Linked DNA regions of Homo sapiens: region 1 is linked to region 2. The links come from fine-mapping of genetic effects on gene expression. A gene starts in region 2. The other region holds a variant in brackets. All regions are shown on one strand. Distances are between the middles of the regions. Region 1 overlaps MGRN1 (mahogunin ring finger 1). Region 2 holds the start of ANKS3 (ankyrin repeat and sterile alpha motif domain containing 3).

Region 1 (8,325 bases), 92 kb after region 2:
GGGCGCTTTGGAAGATCAAGGCAGGAGGATCGCTCGAGCCCCAGAGTTCAAGACCAGCCTGGGCAACATAGGGAGACGCTGTCTCTACAAAAAATTCTTAAAAATTAGCTGGGCATGGCAGCGCATGCCTGTAGTCCTAGCTACTCAGGACACTCACTGAGGCAGGAAGATCGCTTGAGTCCAAGAGTTCGAGGCTGCAGTAAGCCATGATCACACCACACTGCACTCCAGCCTGGGCAACAGAGCAAGACCCTGTCTCTCTTCCCGTCCCCCCACCACCACCCCCACCCCCGCCAACTCTCACTCTATATATATATGCACACGCATATATACATATAAATAACTTCAGAGAAACAAATGCTACAAACTAAAACACCTGCATAGGTAATAAGTGATTATTAATTTTTTCCTTTATCTTTTTAAAATTAAGTTTTCTACAATTAACATATATCATTTGTAAAACAAGAAAAATTATTTTTAAAAGATTAGAGACAAGGAAGAAGAGTGTTTGTTAAAGCAATGGTTGTAATATCACAAAACTGGGACCATGTTCTAGAATTAGATCAAGGTAATGGTTGCATGACTGAATATACCAAAAATCACTGACTTGTACACTTTAAAAAGGTGTCCCCATGGTAAGTGAATTTTACCTCAAAAAAACTTAACTGGAAGGACGTAAGTTGTGAGGTGATGAATCATTAATTTTTGTACTAGGTTTTTATGTCAATTTTTGTGAAGTAACTTGGAAATAGATGCTATTGTTACATAAAAATCTTGCTAATTCCTATCTAATTGATGTTATCAAGGTTTCTCAACTTAAAAAACAGAACCCAGGTGCAGTGGCTCACACCTGTAATTCCAGCACTTTGGGAGGCCAAGGTGGGTGGATCACCTGAGGTCAGGAGTTGGAGACCAGCCTGACCATAATGGAGAAACCCTGTCTCTACTAAAAATACAAAATTACCCAGGCGTGGTGGTGTGTGCCTGTAATCCCAGCTACTTGGGAGGCTGAGGCAGGAAAATCGCTTGAACCTGGGAGGCAGAGGTTGCCGTGAGCTGAGATTGGGCCAGCTGTCCACTCCAGCCTGGACAACAAGAGTGAAACTCCATCAAAAAAAAAAAAAAAAAAAAACTGGTAATTGAGGGGTCCAAGCACGGTGGCTAACACCTGTAAACCCAGCACTTTGGGAGGCTGAGGGGGGTGGATCACTTGAGGTAAGGAGTTCTAGACCAGCCTGGCCAACATGGTAAAACCCCATCTCTACTAAAAATACAAAACAAAACAAAAAAAAATTAGCCGGGAGTGGTAGTACATGCCTGTAATCCCAACTACTCAGGAGGCCAAGACAGCAGAATTGCTTGCATCTGGGAGGCAGAGGTTGCAGGGAGCCGAGATTGCACCACCTCACTCCACTCCAGCCTGGGCAACAGAGCGAGACTCCATCTCAAAAAAAACAAACAAACAAAAAAAACTAGCATTGAGGCTGAAATCATTTTAGCAACAGCTTGTATCCAACTGTGAATGCATGAATTAACCAGGAGAAAAAGGAACCCATCTACTCAAGAGACATATTTCCAATGTTTTTTCGTATTTCTTCTTGTTATTGATAAAAACTGGAATATTTGTTTGATCAATTGGGTATTAGTAATGGCCATTCAAAACACGAAAAACTCACAGCTTATGATGTAAAATTATTTAAAATTCTAATTTCAATTGGTGCGCATATTTTGGTTGCAGACACACAATATGATCAATACAAGATTTTTGCCAGGCGCGGTGACTCACGCGTGTAATCCCAGCACTTTGGGAGGCCAAGGCAGGTGGATCACGAGGTCAGGAGATGGAGACCATCCTGGCTAACACGGTGAAACCCCGTCTCTACTAAAAAATACAAAAAATTAGCCAGGTGTGGTGGCACGCGCCTGTAGTCCCAGGTACTTGGGAGGGGCTGAGGCAGGAGAATTCCTTGAACCCAGGAAGCGGAGGTTGCAGTGAGGGAGACTCTGTCTCAGAAAAAAAAAAAAAAAAAAAAATCAAGCAAGGCCGGGTACAGTAGCTCACGCCTGTAATCCTACCACTTTGGGAGGCCAAGGTGGGAGGTTCACTTGAGCCCAGCAGTTCGAGACCTGCCTGGACAACATGGCAAAACCCCATCTCTGCCAAAAATACAAAAATTAGTCCAGGCTCAGTGGCTCGTGCCTATAATCCCAGTGCTCTGGGAGGCCGAGAGGAGTGGATCACAAGGTCAGGAGATCGAGATTGAGACCAGCCTGGCCAACATGGCGAAATCCCATCTCTACTAAAAATACAAAAATTAGCCAGGCATGGTGGTGTGTGCCTATAGTCCCAGCTACTTAGGAGGCTGAGGCACGAGAATCGCTTGAACTTGGGAGGCAGAGGCTGCAGTGAGCTGAGATTGTGCCACTTCACTCTAGCCTGGGTGACAGAGTGGGACTGTCTCAAAACAAAACAAAACAAAAAAAATTAGCTAGCACGGTGATGCGTACTTGCAGTCCAAGGTACTCGGGAGGCTGAGGTGGAAGGATCACTTGAGCCTGGGAGGTCAAGGCTGCAGTGAACCCTGATCAAGCCACTGCATTATAGCCTAGGCAACAGAGCCAGACCCTTTAACAAAAAAAAAAAAAAAATTCAAGCGTTAAAAATTATAACCCACCAGGCACGGTGCTCACCCCTGTAATCCCAGCACTTTGGGAGGCCAGGGCAGGCAAATCACTTGAGGTCTGCCGTCAGGAGTTGAAGACCAGCCTGGCCAACATGGGAAAGTCTGTTTCTACTAAAAATACAAAAATTAGGGCCGGGTGCGGTGGCTCACGCCTGTAATCCCAGCACTTTGGGAGGCCGAGGCGGGCGGATCACAAGGTCAGGAGTTTAAGACCAGTCTGGCAACAAGGTGAAACCCCCATCTCTACTAAAAACACACACACACACACACACACACACACACACACAAATTAGCTGGCCGTGGTGGTGCATGCCTGTAATCCCAGCTACTCAGAAGGCTGAGGCAGGAGAATCGCTTGAACTCAGGAGACGAAGGTTACCGTGAGCGGAGATCACACCATTGAACTCCAGCCTGGGTGACAGAAGACGACTCCGTTTCAAAAATAAATAAATAAATAAAAATACAAAAATTAGCTCATGCCTGTAATCCCCACTACTCGGGAGGCTGAGACAGGAGAATCTCTCGAACCCAAGAGGCAGAGGTTGCAGCGAGCTGAAATCGCGCCACTGCACTCCAGCCTGGGCGAAAGAGCAAGACGGTCTTTTTTAAAAAAAAAAAAAAAAAAGGAACCAAGTCATATGCTGACAGGGAAATGCATGACAGTGCAGGGTTACCGGATGGACCCTCAGCACTCAAGAACAGGGTCTACGTGATCAACACGGCGCAGACAATCAACAACTCACACCTGCAGGAGACGAGACCAACTGGGAAGAACTGGAAACACCTCACAGAGAATCCAGGCCAGCCGAGGGGGCTCACGCCTATAATCCCAGCACTTTAGGAGGCCAAGGTGGGCAAGATGGCTTGAAGCCACGAATTTCAGACCAGCCTGGGCGACATGGCGAGACCCTGTCTCTACAAAAAATACAAAAAGTGGCCAGGCGCAGTGGCTCACATCTGTAATCCCAGCACTTTGGGAGGCCGAGGCAGGCGAATCACCTGAGGTTGGGAGTTCGAGACCAGCCTGACCAACATGGAGAAACTCCCGTCTCTACTAAAAATGCAAAATTAGCTGGGCATGGTGGTGGGTGCCTGTAATCCCATCTACTCAGGAGGCTAAGGCAGGAGAATC[A/G]CTTGAACCTGGGAGGCAGAGGTTGCGGTCAGCCGAGACTGCACCACTGCACTCCAGCCTGGGGCAACAAGAGCAAAACGCTGTCTTAAAAAAAAAAAAAAAAAAAGTAGCCAGGCACAGTGGTATGTGCCTGTAGTACCAGCCACTCAAGAGGCTGAGGCAGAAGGACCATGCGAGCCCAGCAATTTGAGGTTGCAGTGAGCTATGATTGGGCCCCTGGGCCACTGCACTCCAGCCCAAGCAACAGCGTGACTCTGTCTCCAAAAAACAAAAAAAAAATCCTATTGCTCACACATGGGTATCCACACATGGAGAAGAAACACGGGAAGGAGACCCTAGGTCCCTGATGGGGCAGGAGGAAGGGACCAGGCCTGGGGAAGTGTTAGGGGCGGGGCCGCCCTTTCCTTTGCCTCAAGAAGAATGACACACATGTGGTGTGTGCGTGCATGAGCTGTGTACATTTGTATGTGCACCAGCTCAGGACCAAGAGGAGCAGGCAGCGCTGCCAAGGGGGTGGAGGAAAAAGAAAAGGAGACTGTGAGTGGGAAGTGGGAAGGCAGCTGTGGAGGTGAAAGAACGCAGGTGGAACCACACCCACCAGGCTCTCCCTCCACACCTGCTGAGGTCAGCGCCTTCACCCCCTTTCCCGCTGGCCCCAAGGAAAGAGGGGCAGACAAGGCCCACACTTTCAAACATACAGGAAACGAAGCTTGGCTAAGGCCCCCAAGCTCATCAGCGGTGGAGCTGGGGCGCACACCCCGACTCCAGAGCCCACTTGTTTCTCAGTCTCTGTGCTGGGCACCTCCCCTCCTGCAGCCGGGGGACCACGGGGACAGGAGTCAGTGGTGTCATCGCCAGTGACAATGGGCACTGTTCACACACAAAAAACCACACCCAAGGGGCTTCCCCAGCAGAATGGCTGAAAATCCTCCTGTGGGCTCACAGAGCCCGACAGACGCCACAGGGTCCCAAGGTTGTCCTGGAAATCCCGGCTATGTGGAACCAACACACTCAAGGACCCAGGGCCTCAGGGCAGTCCTCGAACACCACTAAAACAAAGGCATCCTTCTCCCCTGGTTTACTGTCACCCCCAGGGGGACTGGAGCCCAGCAGTTCACTGCCTCCCTGCCCGAGGGATTCGGACTCTGGGTGGCTTGCAGGTGTCCGGGCAACCTGCACAGGGAGACAACAGCCACAGAAATGAAAACTGCAAAATCCCTTCCGTGGGAGGCCTCGAGGCATTCCCCGAACAGCCTCAATGCTCTCCACACATGCCTCCAGGCAGGAGGATACATACGTTTGTCATCTCTACAGCTGAGAAAAACCAAAACCACAAGGCCACAGGTCAGAGGCTGTCTTGGGGATGGCCAGGGGAGGGGGACAGCCCTGTCCCTTCCATACAGGCCACAGAGTGAGCCAAGAAGCCTTCTGGGCCCGTCTTGTGTCTCTTGCACCTTGTCAATATCTTGTGGTACACAGTGTGCAATGAACGCCACCAGACATCTGCGAGAGGAAAACAGGGACATTCCGAATCACTGAAACAAGCCAACCTTGGAAGGGCGGGAGGCCCGGGACGCGGCAAGGCCTCCCAAGAACGCGGGCGAAAGGCGAAGCACAGGCCATCTGAGTGCACAGACGGACTCAACGCAGCAGAGGAGCCGCAGCAAACACCGTCGGAGCCGCGGAGCGTGGAGGGCAGATGAGTAAAGTAGGGTCTTGCTATCAAGCCTGAAAGCACCTGCCCCGCCTGCCTGTGCCTGAACTCCACGCTCACAGTTTTCAGGGAGAAGTCTGACCCATGTTTATCAGACCAGAGTTCAGGGCCCACCGGGTCAGAGGTTCGTGATCTGGACCCTTGAAATGCATTTGCCTCCAAACCCACCAACCCTGGTACACCCCTAAGAGAAAGAGGCCGGGCTCAGATCATGTCAGAAAGGCCTTTCCTCCACACCCCCAATACGGGGACCATGTGTGGATCCACAGGCAGGCGTTCCTCATCCTCCCGCACCGAGGGGGCAGACGCTGTGCATCTGGGGACAGGATGCCCAAGTCATAGGCAGGCCTTGGAGACAACTGTCCTGCCTGTTCCATCCTAGGTAGCCCAGGCTTCCTCCTGACCTTCCAGATGCCCCCAGCCTAATGATGCCCAATGGTGAAGGTTGCTGCACCCTGACCTGAAGGCCATGGCCAAGCTCCCCGCTCTGCAGACCAGTGATTCCACATGCCCTGCCCACCCCGCCCCACCTTCCCGGCCTGGGCTATTCCCTCCTTGGGATGCCGCGGTGAGGCCAGCCTGGACCACCACGCAGGCCAACTGCCAGCTCGTGGTCAACGCTCCCGCCGCCATTCTCCTCATAGTGTCACTGCTGCTTTATCTCGTGTACCTGTTGGTTCCCTCTGTCCTCCCCAGCCCAAAAGTAGGCATCATCCTCAACTGTCCACGGCCCCGCATCCTCATGACCTCCCCGCTCCATGCCTAAGAGCTGGATGAACACTCACCTAATGAATGAAAGCAGATGCTGTTGTTACTGGTGTTTGACAGTCAGGGAAACTGGCCCGGTGAGGCTGAGTGACCTGCTCAGGTCACACAACCAGTGAGAGACATTCTCACTGGGACCCCTGGGCAGACTCCAGAGCCTGCACTGTCAGCCATGGGAAGTAAGCCAGGATGTGAATGAAGACACCCAGCATGTCTGCCTCCTAAGAAACACAGCGGCCCAGGGACCCGGGACACCAGGGGTGGACTTCACTGGGCTGCCTCAGCCATCGTTCCCACCCGAGGAAGGGGGAGTGGGAAGGCCACGAGGTGTCTGCAGGGGCTCCGAACAGCTCACTGATTCCACCTGCTGAAAATTCTCCTCGTGTTCTAACAGGACAGGTGTTCCTGCTTACCAGTCTCACAAAATCAGCTGCTGCATTGCCAATAAACCCCAGGTGGGCCAGACCTGCACAAGATCAGGTCCCAGGATGCCCCCACCAGGTGGGAGGCCAGAGGGGGTGGCAGCCCCACAGCCTTCGAGTGCTCTGGGGGTCCCACCCAGCTGTATCACCCACGCATTGATCCCCCTGGGCCTACCATGCTTCCCTGCCTACTACCAGTCCCCCACCCAGCTGGGGAAGTCAACATGGGCTGAGATATTTATTTATTTTTTTTTTTGAGACGGACTCTCGCTCTGTCACCCAGGCTGGAGTGCAGTGGTACGATCACGGCTCACTGCAACCTCTGCCTCCCGGGTTCAGGTGATTCTCCTGCCTCAGCCTTCCAAATAGCTGAGATTACAGGCACCCGCCACCACGCCCAGCAATTTTCTGTATTTTTAGTAGAGACGGAGTTTCACCATGTTGGTCAGGCTGGTCTCAAACTCCTGACCTCGTAATCCACCCGCCTCGGCCTCCCAAAGTGCTGGGATTACAGGGAGCCACCACACCCAACCTTGATTTCTTTAACTGCAAACTTGAGATGAGAGGGCCACCCTAAACTCAGGACGTCCTGAGGATAAAAAATGCCAATTAACACAAAGGAGCCTCCGGCAGGTGTGAACACACTGGCTAGAAGTCCCTTTCGGACCTCCCATATGTAAACGTGATACCATATTAAATACAGGGCTCTGGCTTCCAGTGCGGAACACAAAGCTGAGAACAACTCTGACTAAGCAAAGACGCTGGGGCACGGAGGGGGCATAAGCTGTAGTCACCTTTTTTGTTGGGGGTGTGTCCTCCCCTTTTCTGGAAACAGCCTCCACCACCCTCAGGGTGGCCCCCACCCCCTAGACAGGGCTGGTTGGCCCTAAGGTGGACACTGGCACACTGGGCCATCCGAATTCTCCCTCCTGTGGAATGGGACCAGGGACGACGGCAGCACTTGGCCCTTGACCAGCCTGGTGGGTGGCGATGGCCTCACACACGCCGGAGCAGCTGGGGCGCTCTGCAGGACTGCAGGATGGCGCTGAGGCTGGAGCCGAACAGAGGCTCTGGGTTCCCGCAGCTTCCACTTGTCCGTTTCCCCTGAGGTTACTGGGACTTCCCTCGGAGCCTTCAATACACTCCATTTCTTGCCTGGGCTAGCTTCCATAAACGGCACTAAGGCGGCCAATTTCCAAAGAATTAAAACCATAATAAAAAGCACTTAGGAAAGAGCTCCTATAAACCAGTAAGAAAAAAAGATAACTCAATTTTTTTTTTGTTTTTTTCTTTGAGACAGTCTCACTCTGTCGCTCAGGCTGGAGTGCAATGGCGCGATCTTGGCTCACTGTAACCTCCATCTCCCAGGTTCAAGCGATTCTCCTGCCTCAGCCTCCCCAGGAGCTAGGATTACAGGCACCCAACACCATGCCCAGCTAATTTTTGAATTTTTAGTAGAGACGGGGTTTCACCATGTTGGCCGGGCTGGTCTTCAACTCCTGACCTGAGGTGATCTGCCCGCCTCAGCCTCCCAAAGTGCTAGAATTACAGGTGTGAGCCACTGAACCTGGCCACTCAATTTTTTTTTTTTTTTTTTTTTTTGAGATG
Region 2 (8,325 bases):
CAAGGCAGCAGGCAGAGCCCTGAGGGCCTAGCCACCCCCGCTCTCCACTCTCCACTCTCACTTCCAGCCCAGCCCGCCCAGCCCATCCAGCCCGTCCAGCCCTGCTGCTCAGGAGCCTGGGGGAGATCCGGTTCTCTCCCAGTCAGCCTTGCTGTGCGCGGCTTCTTGCCACCGTTTAGAAATGGGCTTGGCAGCACAACCTCGTGGAGGTGAGACTGGGGCTCCTGGTTCTGCAAGTACCTCGCATACAGCAGGTGCTTCATTAATGCCTCGTGACATGAACAGGGCAGTGAGGTGGTAGCTGAAAGAGCAGGGTCCAGCCCTCCCCATCCCCTGTGACCCTGAGCCATCACTTACACAGCTTAGTTTGTCTTCTTGAAGGGGTTGGGGCTCATACTCTCAAATGAGACTGAAGGTGTGAAAACACCCTGAGCACTGAGGCGTGGGGTCCCCTTAGGTTCTCCTTAGCCTCGTCATGCACTGGATGACGTCTGAGGTCCCTGAAGCTCTGTTGCTGGTGCCCAGGTAGGACCCAAACCCTGCCCGTTCCTTTTAAAACCCTCATACTGTCTCTTAACGCCCAGTGCCAACCTGTGCACTGAGCAGCCCCCGCCAGGAGCATCTTTAGCAGGGTCTTATGCCTGCACCTAGGGCTATTGGTCTGAGCGTCTTTGAGAGCCATTTCAGGGACCCCAAACCACAAATGCAGAATCCCTCGAAGGCTTATCACAATGCACTGGAATTGTGCATTCTCAGTGGGTGTTCTGGCCCTGTCCTGGCACGAGAGAGTGGAGAATAGCAGAATGGAAAGGACAGAGCTTCTGCATCAAATTGACCTGGGTTCCAAGTCAGCACCAAAAACTCCACTGAAAGGGTCTCCCAAGATGCTGAGCACCAATACCCATGCTCAGAGATGACAATCAAGGCAGAAGAAAGAGTAAAGAAGGAAATAGGCACCCAGAAAACACAACTTTGAGTCTGGCCATGCGATTTAAAGTAAAATGACAACAAACTGCACAGGTCAGCAGGAAAAGTCTTCAGAGAAGTGCTCCAAAGCTGTCCTGGCCAGCGTCATGCCTGCTCTGGTAGGAAGGACAAGGCATCCAGGGAGAGAGTTCTTGCTTACCAAAGGGGAGTCTGAGTCCAGAGACGGGAGCTGGTCTTTGACAGCCTTGAGGATGGCATCCCAGGGCCCCATCTGGGAGGCCCAGGGAGAGCCCAGCGAGGGTGCCATGCCTTTATCGTTGGATGCCATGAGGGCCCAGGCTTCCAGATGCCTTCTCAGTGCACCATAATCCGGGGAGCTCTGTGGGGTACACAGGGTGATGGAAGAGGGTCCGGGCCACTGAAGGTCAGGAGAGCAGGGGCTGCTCTACCAGCTGTAGGAGACCAAACAGGCTGGCAGGCCTCACCACCTGCCTCAGTTTCCTTCTAGTTATGCAAGCTCCTGTTAGTGCCAGGCACTGTGTGTGTACGTGTGTGTGTGTGTTCCCACTCATGCACACATGTGGAGCCTGCAGGTATATAATGTATATAGTGATATATACATAATAATATACAAATATATGTATTGATATAAATATACCTATGTAGATATATGTACATGTTATATAGAATGCCATATGTACGATATATAATGATATATAGGTATATTTTATATATACCCCATATAGCATAACTATTCTCTTCATTTCATAGGCTCAGGGTGTTTAGTAAATAGCAACAGTGGACTCTGAATCAGGGGGAATTTCAAGTCCTACTACCCTTTACTGCCCTTTACCAAGGAACAGAAGACACCTTGCTTTTTTGTTTTGGAGACAGGGTCTGGCTTTGTCGCCCAGGCTAGAGTGCAGTGGTACAATGATAGCTCACTGAAGCCTCGGCCTCCTGAGCTCAAGTGATCCTCCCACCTCAGCCTCCTGAATAACTGGGACTACAGGTGTGTACCACCACATCTGGCTAACATTTTTATTTTTTGTAGAGATGGAGTCTCCCTGTTGCCCAGGCTGGTCTCAAACTCCTGGCCTCAAGTGATCCTCTTGCCTCAGCCTCCCAAAGTGCTGGGATTACAGGCATGTGCCATCGCGCCTGGCTGACAGTTTGGAGTCACTAAGTGATTTTTTTTTTTTTTTGGAGTCACTACTCTGACCAGCCCCTGCATTTATATCTTAGAGTCTTAAAGGAGATGGTCCTGTTATTCAGGGGGCTGGGGAGCTTGAGCTTGAGAGCTGGGGGGTGAGGGTCCTCTAGAGCCAGTGTCAGGAGAACTCTGCAGCTCGAGAGGCCGCTGTGGCTTTGGCCCTGCAGTCAGTGCCCGTTCATCCCCAATCAGGGCAGCGGCAGGAGATGTGAATTGGGGGCTGCTTGCTTCCTCTGTACTTCTGGGAATAGGGCAGGTGCTTGGTGCACTCTGAACTGGGAGCAGCGGGTTGGGGACGCATCTGGTGCACACAGCCAGCGGGTGTTTTTTGTAACTAGAGCTCTGTTCCGCAATTCAGGGCACAGTATTTCTTAGGGCAACAGAATCGTCGGGATGAAGAGGGCCTCCAGAGACTCTGATAAACCCTTCAGGCGGACAAGACAATAGGGGAGGGAACGGCATTACCGGCAGAAGGAAGAGCATGTACAGTAGCTCAAAGGAATGAACCGCCCAACAGGTTTAAGGGAAGAAAGTGTCAGTTGCTGGACTCTCCGGTGAAAACGGACCAGACAATGCAGGGCCCTGAACGCCAAGTTGAGGAGCTCAGAGCATCCAGAAGGCGAAGGGGAGGCTCGGAGCCGCCTCTGAATAACGGCCTTCCGGCTCCGTCTCGGGGTGGGTTTCTCAGCTGCAGCCTGTTAGCCCCGCCACAGCCCCGCCCCGGTTCTCAGAGCCCCGCCCCCAGCCGGCCTGCCACGAGGCTGCCGGTTGTTATGGCAACCAGACGCCAACAGCCTCCCGGGTCGAGCTTTTAAATTTTAAAGCTGTGGAAGTGGAAAGCCCATCGCTCCTCCTCTCACCCACCCCCAGCCCGTATTTCCCCGCGTTTTGTTCAACTCCCTGCAGGCGCAGCAGGCCCGAGGCCCCTCACCTCAGGCCTCTGCCTCCACTCCCCGCGCTGTCCTGACAGCGCTATAAACAGCCTCCAGCGCGTCACTCCGCTCGCGTCCGCCCCTCGGGCCGCGCCGCAGGTACAGAGGCTGTCCCCTTCTTCAGCACTCTCCCTCTCAGCGGAGCTTTACATTACTAGACTGCCTCCGCCTTCCCCCCACCCCGCCCAGCTCCTCTTTCGGGCCTTTGCGCGTCCTGCCTCTCCTGCAATGGGATTGGTTCCCCTGGAGGGCGGGGACGGAGCAGGACAAACACCACTAGCTCATTGGCTACCGCGGGCATCAGACAGCGAGCCGGGAAGCTGACCGGAAGGTCCGGGTGCGGGACGTGTGCATTCCACGGCGCCCGGGAGCTGTCCCGGTGCCGACCCGCGAGCTTCCCGGCGTGCTCCGCGCCCTCCCGCAACTACTTCCGGGGCGGGTGCCGGGGGCGGTGCCCCGGCGAGGGAGCGTGGCGGCGAGCTGTTTGGGGGGGGTTGGCGACGGCAGCCCGAGGGCGGCGCAAGGCCTGAGGCCCAGCACAGGTGGGTTCCGCGGCGGCCCGGCCCCAGCACTTGCCGGCACCTGCAGCCCGCCTAGACCCGGCGCTCGGGCGTCCCGCGCTGCACTTGCTCGCCGCGTGACTGGAGGACCGAGCCCCCACATTTTCTTTATGTGGTTGTGGTGGGGGCACAGTAATGCCCTGTGCGCCGTAGCGTTCCTGTGGGGATGTGGCCGGGGGGCGTCGGGAAGCGTCACTGCTGTGAGTTACGGGTTTGTCGGCCAGGGACCCGCCCCGGGGCCAGTGAGCTACCTTTGCGATGCGGTTCCACGGGGCGAGAGGGGGTGCCTGGGTGCTTTCACAGACCTCCTCTGTGGGCGTGACAGTTACCACCAGCATCACATTTGTTAAGATTTTTAAAAATTTTTTAATTTTTGTGGGTACGTAGTAGGTGTATATATTTATGGCGTATATGAGAGATTTTGATACAGGCATGCAGTTCGTAATAATCACATGTAAAATGGGGGTCTCCATCCCTTCAAGCATTTATCCTTTGTGTTACAAACAATATGATTATACTCTTTGAATTATTTTTAAATGTGCAGCCGGGCGCGGTGGCTCACTCACGCCTGTAATCCTAGCACTTTGGGAGGCAAAGGCGGGCGGATCACCTGAAGTCAAGGATTTGAGACCAGCCTGGCCAACATGGGGACACTTCGTCTCTACTAAACATACGAAAACTAGGCTGGCATGGTGGCTCATACCTGTAATCTCAGCTACTCGGGAAGCTGAGGCAGGAGAATCGCTTGAACCCAGGAGGCGGAGGTTGCATTGAGCCGAGATCACGCCGCTGCACTCTAGCCTGGGTAACAGAGTGAGATTATGTCTCAAAAAAAATAATAATAAATAAATAAAATGTGCAATTAGATTATATTGACTATAGTCACCCTGTTGTGCGGTCAAATACTAGATCTTTTTTTTTTTTTTTTTTTTTTTGAGACGGAGTCTCGCTTTGTCGCCCAGGCTGGAGTGCAGTGGCTTGATCAAATACTAGATCTTATTCATTCTGTTTTTTTTGTATCCATTAAGCATCCCCACCCTCCACTACCCTTCCCAGCCTTGGTTACACTAGAAGTAACCATCCTTCTACTTTCTATGTCCATGAGTTCAGTTGTTTTGATTTTTAGATAACCACAAATAATTGAGAACATGCAATATTTATCTTTCTGTGCCTGGCTTATTTCACTAAACATAACGATCTCCGCTTCCATCCATGTTTTTGCAAATGATAGGATCTCATTCTTTTTTTATGGCTGAATAGTACTCCATTGTGTCTAAGTACCACATTTTCTTTAGGATTCACTGTAAAGGTAACAGATACTTAGCATTTTCAGAATGGACAGAACCAAAAAGTTGAATGAAAACTAAAACGTCTTATCTCTAATGCTACTTTACACCACACCACTCGGGATGGGACATTTTAGTTTTCACTTTAGTGTTTTTTTTTTGTTTTTTTTTTTGAGACAGAATTTCGCTCTGTTGCCCAGGCTGGAGTGCAGTGGCTTGAGCTCGGCTCACTGCAATCGCCTCCCAGGCTCAAGCGATTCTCTTGCCTCAGCCTCCTGAGTACTGAGACTACAGGCGCCCACCACCACACCCAGCTAATTTTTGTAATTTTAGTAAAGATGGGAGTTCACCATTTTGGCCAGGGTGGTCTCGAACTCCTGGCCTCAAGTGGTCCGTCACGCTTGGTCTGGTTCTCATTGTCCTTCAGACCTCTGGGGATGTCAGATATGCAAGTCTCCAGTAAATAGAGAACACGGCCTCACCCTGCAGGAGGCCTTTGGCGTGGAAGAGACATGCCCAGTGAAGGCTTGAGGGAGGTATGGAAGGGACTCTGAACTGACCCTCAGCTCGTTTGGTTTCTTATCCAGGCTTCGTTGGCCAGGGCTGTTAGGGTGGGATTCTCACCTGCAAAGTGAGGGAAGGGCACTGCACGATCTTGGGCTCTGCTAGCTGAAGAGGTGGTGGCTCCAGGAAGGAGGGCTTTGCTTGCCCCACCGCACCTACACACACTCTTCACCAAGGGTCTGTGAAGTGTTCGTCTCCCACATTGGTGGCTTGTTTCTTTAGCCATCTTGGCTGTCACCTGGGGCTTGGAAGCATTCTTTAATAGAAACTGAGGTCCTCATCGCATCTATTAACTACCATAGCACCTGTAGGTCATCACAACCTGACAAGGCCTTTGTTTTCGCCTTTGCTCCCTTTCCTACCCTTGTTTCCTGGCACTCTTGTACCTAAGGATTCTACTAGGAAGCTGATGACCTTGCCTTGATTTGGGGATTCCTGGTGTGCCGTTACCCATGTAGGCCCATCTCGGGGAAAGTGTTACCTCACCAGTTCACCGGCCTGTTATATTTCCCCCCATAGCTCTCTCTTCAAAGGATGCCTAAGTGGATTCCTATTCAGTTGACGGTTGCTGCGTGCCACCAGTCACATCCTGGTTTGTCTGTTGGGGAATTGCTTTCTATTTTTTTCAGAAAAATTTATTTTTACTTTTTTGAAATTTTCAATTTCATAACCATTCCAGAAAAATTAATTTATATTTAAAATTTACAGGCCAGGTGCAGTGGCTCACGCCTATATTTCCAGGACTTTGAGAGGCTGAGGCGGGCGGATCACCTGAGGTGAGGAGTTCGAGACCAGCCTGGCCAACATGGTGAAACCCCCGTCTCTACTAAAAATACAAAAATTAGCCTAACATGATGGCGCACACCTGTAATCTCAGCTATTCAGGTGGCTGAGGCTCAAGAAGCCCTTAAACCCAGGAGGCAGAGGTTCCAGTGAGCTGAAATCATGCCACTGCACTCCAGCCTGGGCAACAGAGCGAGACTGTCTCAAAAAAATAAATAAAATTTACATACAGTAAAATTCATTTTGGTGTTCAGTTCTGTGGTTTCATAAAGGCATGGAGTCACAGATCCACCGTCACAGTCATACAGGTCTATCGTCCCCCAAATTCCCTCTCTGCCCCAACCTCCAACCCTTTAATTTTGCCTTTTCCAGAATGTCATGTAAGTGAAATTATACTGTAGGCAGGCTTCTTCCATTTAGCGTAAATCATTTGAAATTCATTCACGTGTTGCATGTCAACTGTTGGATCCTTGTGTTTAATGCTGAGTAGCATCCATTATATGGATGTGCCACCGTTTGTTTATCCATTCTTTTATGTATCATAATAGCAGCCTTTTTAGATATGTCCCCGTTAGACAGTGAGGCACTAGGGATTGGAGTTGCTAAGTAGCAGAGCTGCTTTTTTGTTGTTTTTTTTTTTTGTTTTGTTTTTGGAGACAAAGTCTTGCTCTGTTTCCCAGGCTGGAGTGCAATGGCGTGATCTTGGCTCACCGCAACCTCCGCCTCCTCAGTTCAAGTGATGCTCCTACCTCAGCCTCCCGAGTAGCTGGCCTTCATGCCCAGCTAATTTTTGTATTTTTAGTAGAGACAGGATTTCACCATGTTGGCCAGGCTGGTCTTGAACTCTTGACCTCAAGTGATCTGCCCACCTTGGCCTCCCAAAGTGCTGGGATTACAGGTGTGAGCCACCGCACCGGGTCCAAGCTGAATTTTGATCAAACCCCAAATCCAGGGTTCTTCCCCACCACATCAAGGAACTGATTGGGTTAAACAACCCAATTAGCATTTCTTCACTGCCCATCCAAGAGGTTGTCAGGTTCCTAGAGTTGGTGGAGAATTCTCTTTTACCTGGTGCCTGCGGTTGGAAGGAGGAGCAGGTACTCCACAGTTAATGCCTCACCATATGTGCTCCTCTTTACTGGTGTGATAGCAGGCTCACCAGATTTAGCATGGTTGGGACTGCCCAAAGCATACATTATTTCAGCAAATAAATTTGTCTGAGTTACTCCCGGGGTTGACTGCACTGGGTTATCAGTCTGCTAGTGCAGTGGTGTAGCAGGGGCAGGACCAGCCTGTTTCATGCCCTGGAACAACCAGCCAGGAAAGATCTAACCCTTGGGCCTTCCTCCTCAGTGATGTCCGAGCTCAGCGATGAAGCCAGCGAGCCGGAACTCCTGAACCGCAGCTTGTCCATGTGGCACGGGCTCGGGACACAGGTCAGCGGGGAGGAGCTGGATGTCCCCCTGGATCTTCACACAGCTGCTTCCATTGGCCAGTATGAAGTGGTGAAGGAGTGTGTGCAGCGGTAAGAGATCTCGGGGAACTTCCTCTCACATTTTGAGCAGCGCAGTGATGGCTTCGATCCCACGTGATGGGGCTTTGCACACAGTTGTGGATGTTTAATGCGTGTAGAATAGGTTAACCTGCTTATCTCAGGCAGCTGTCAGTAAGTATTGATGCTGAGCCCTGACAAAGAGGCCGTTTTTATTCCTAGGAAGAAAAAGAGGGAGTAAACTTTGATCAGAAGCTTATAAACAGTCATTCTTTAACCAGACTAATTTTATTCACTAATTGCAGAAATGCCCAAACAAACAAGCAAAATAAAAATAAAGACAGAAAGTGATGGCCTGGTGCGGTGGCTCACACTTGTAATTCCAGCACTTTGGGAGGCTGAGATGGGCGGGTCACTTGAGGTCAGGAGTTTGAGACCATTCTGGATAACATGATGAAACCCCATCTCTACTAAAAATATAAAAGTTAGCTGGGTGTGGTGGCATGTACCTGTAATCCCAGCTACTCAGGAGGCTGAGGCAGGAGAATCGCTTGAACCCGGGAGGTGG

Evidence for each region. PIP is the estimated chance that this variant, and not a neighbour inherited with it, causes the effect.
Region 1: its variant is fine-mapped to the expression of ANKS3 in sun-exposed skin (GTEx, PIP 0.95).

What each region holds. Positions count from the first base shown.
Region 1 is chr16:4,637,113-4,645,437 of GRCh38, reverse strand. All of the region lies in intron 1 of MGRN1 (mahogunin ring finger 1), which reads right to left. Among named protein-coding and RNA genes, the nearest start is that of MGRN1, 16 kb to the right of the region's middle. RefSeq lists an enhancer at 7,201-8,165. The variant A/G (reference allele first, on the strand shown) is at 3,817.
Region 2 is chr16:4,729,445-4,737,769 of GRCh38, reverse strand. It overlaps ANKS3 (ankyrin repeat and sterile alpha motif domain containing 3), which reads left to right and starts at 3,499. Exons shown (of 18, transcript NM_133450.4): 1 at 3,499-3,832; 2 at 6,191-6,258; 3 at 7,619-7,790. The coding sequence starts at 7,621. It overlaps DNAAF8 (dynein axonemal assembly factor 8), which reads right to left and starts at 3,233. Exons shown (of 10, transcript NM_139170.3): 1 at 3,072-3,233; 2 at 1,127-1,306. The coding sequence starts at 1,255. RefSeq lists silencers at 3,374-3,603, 3,654-3,713.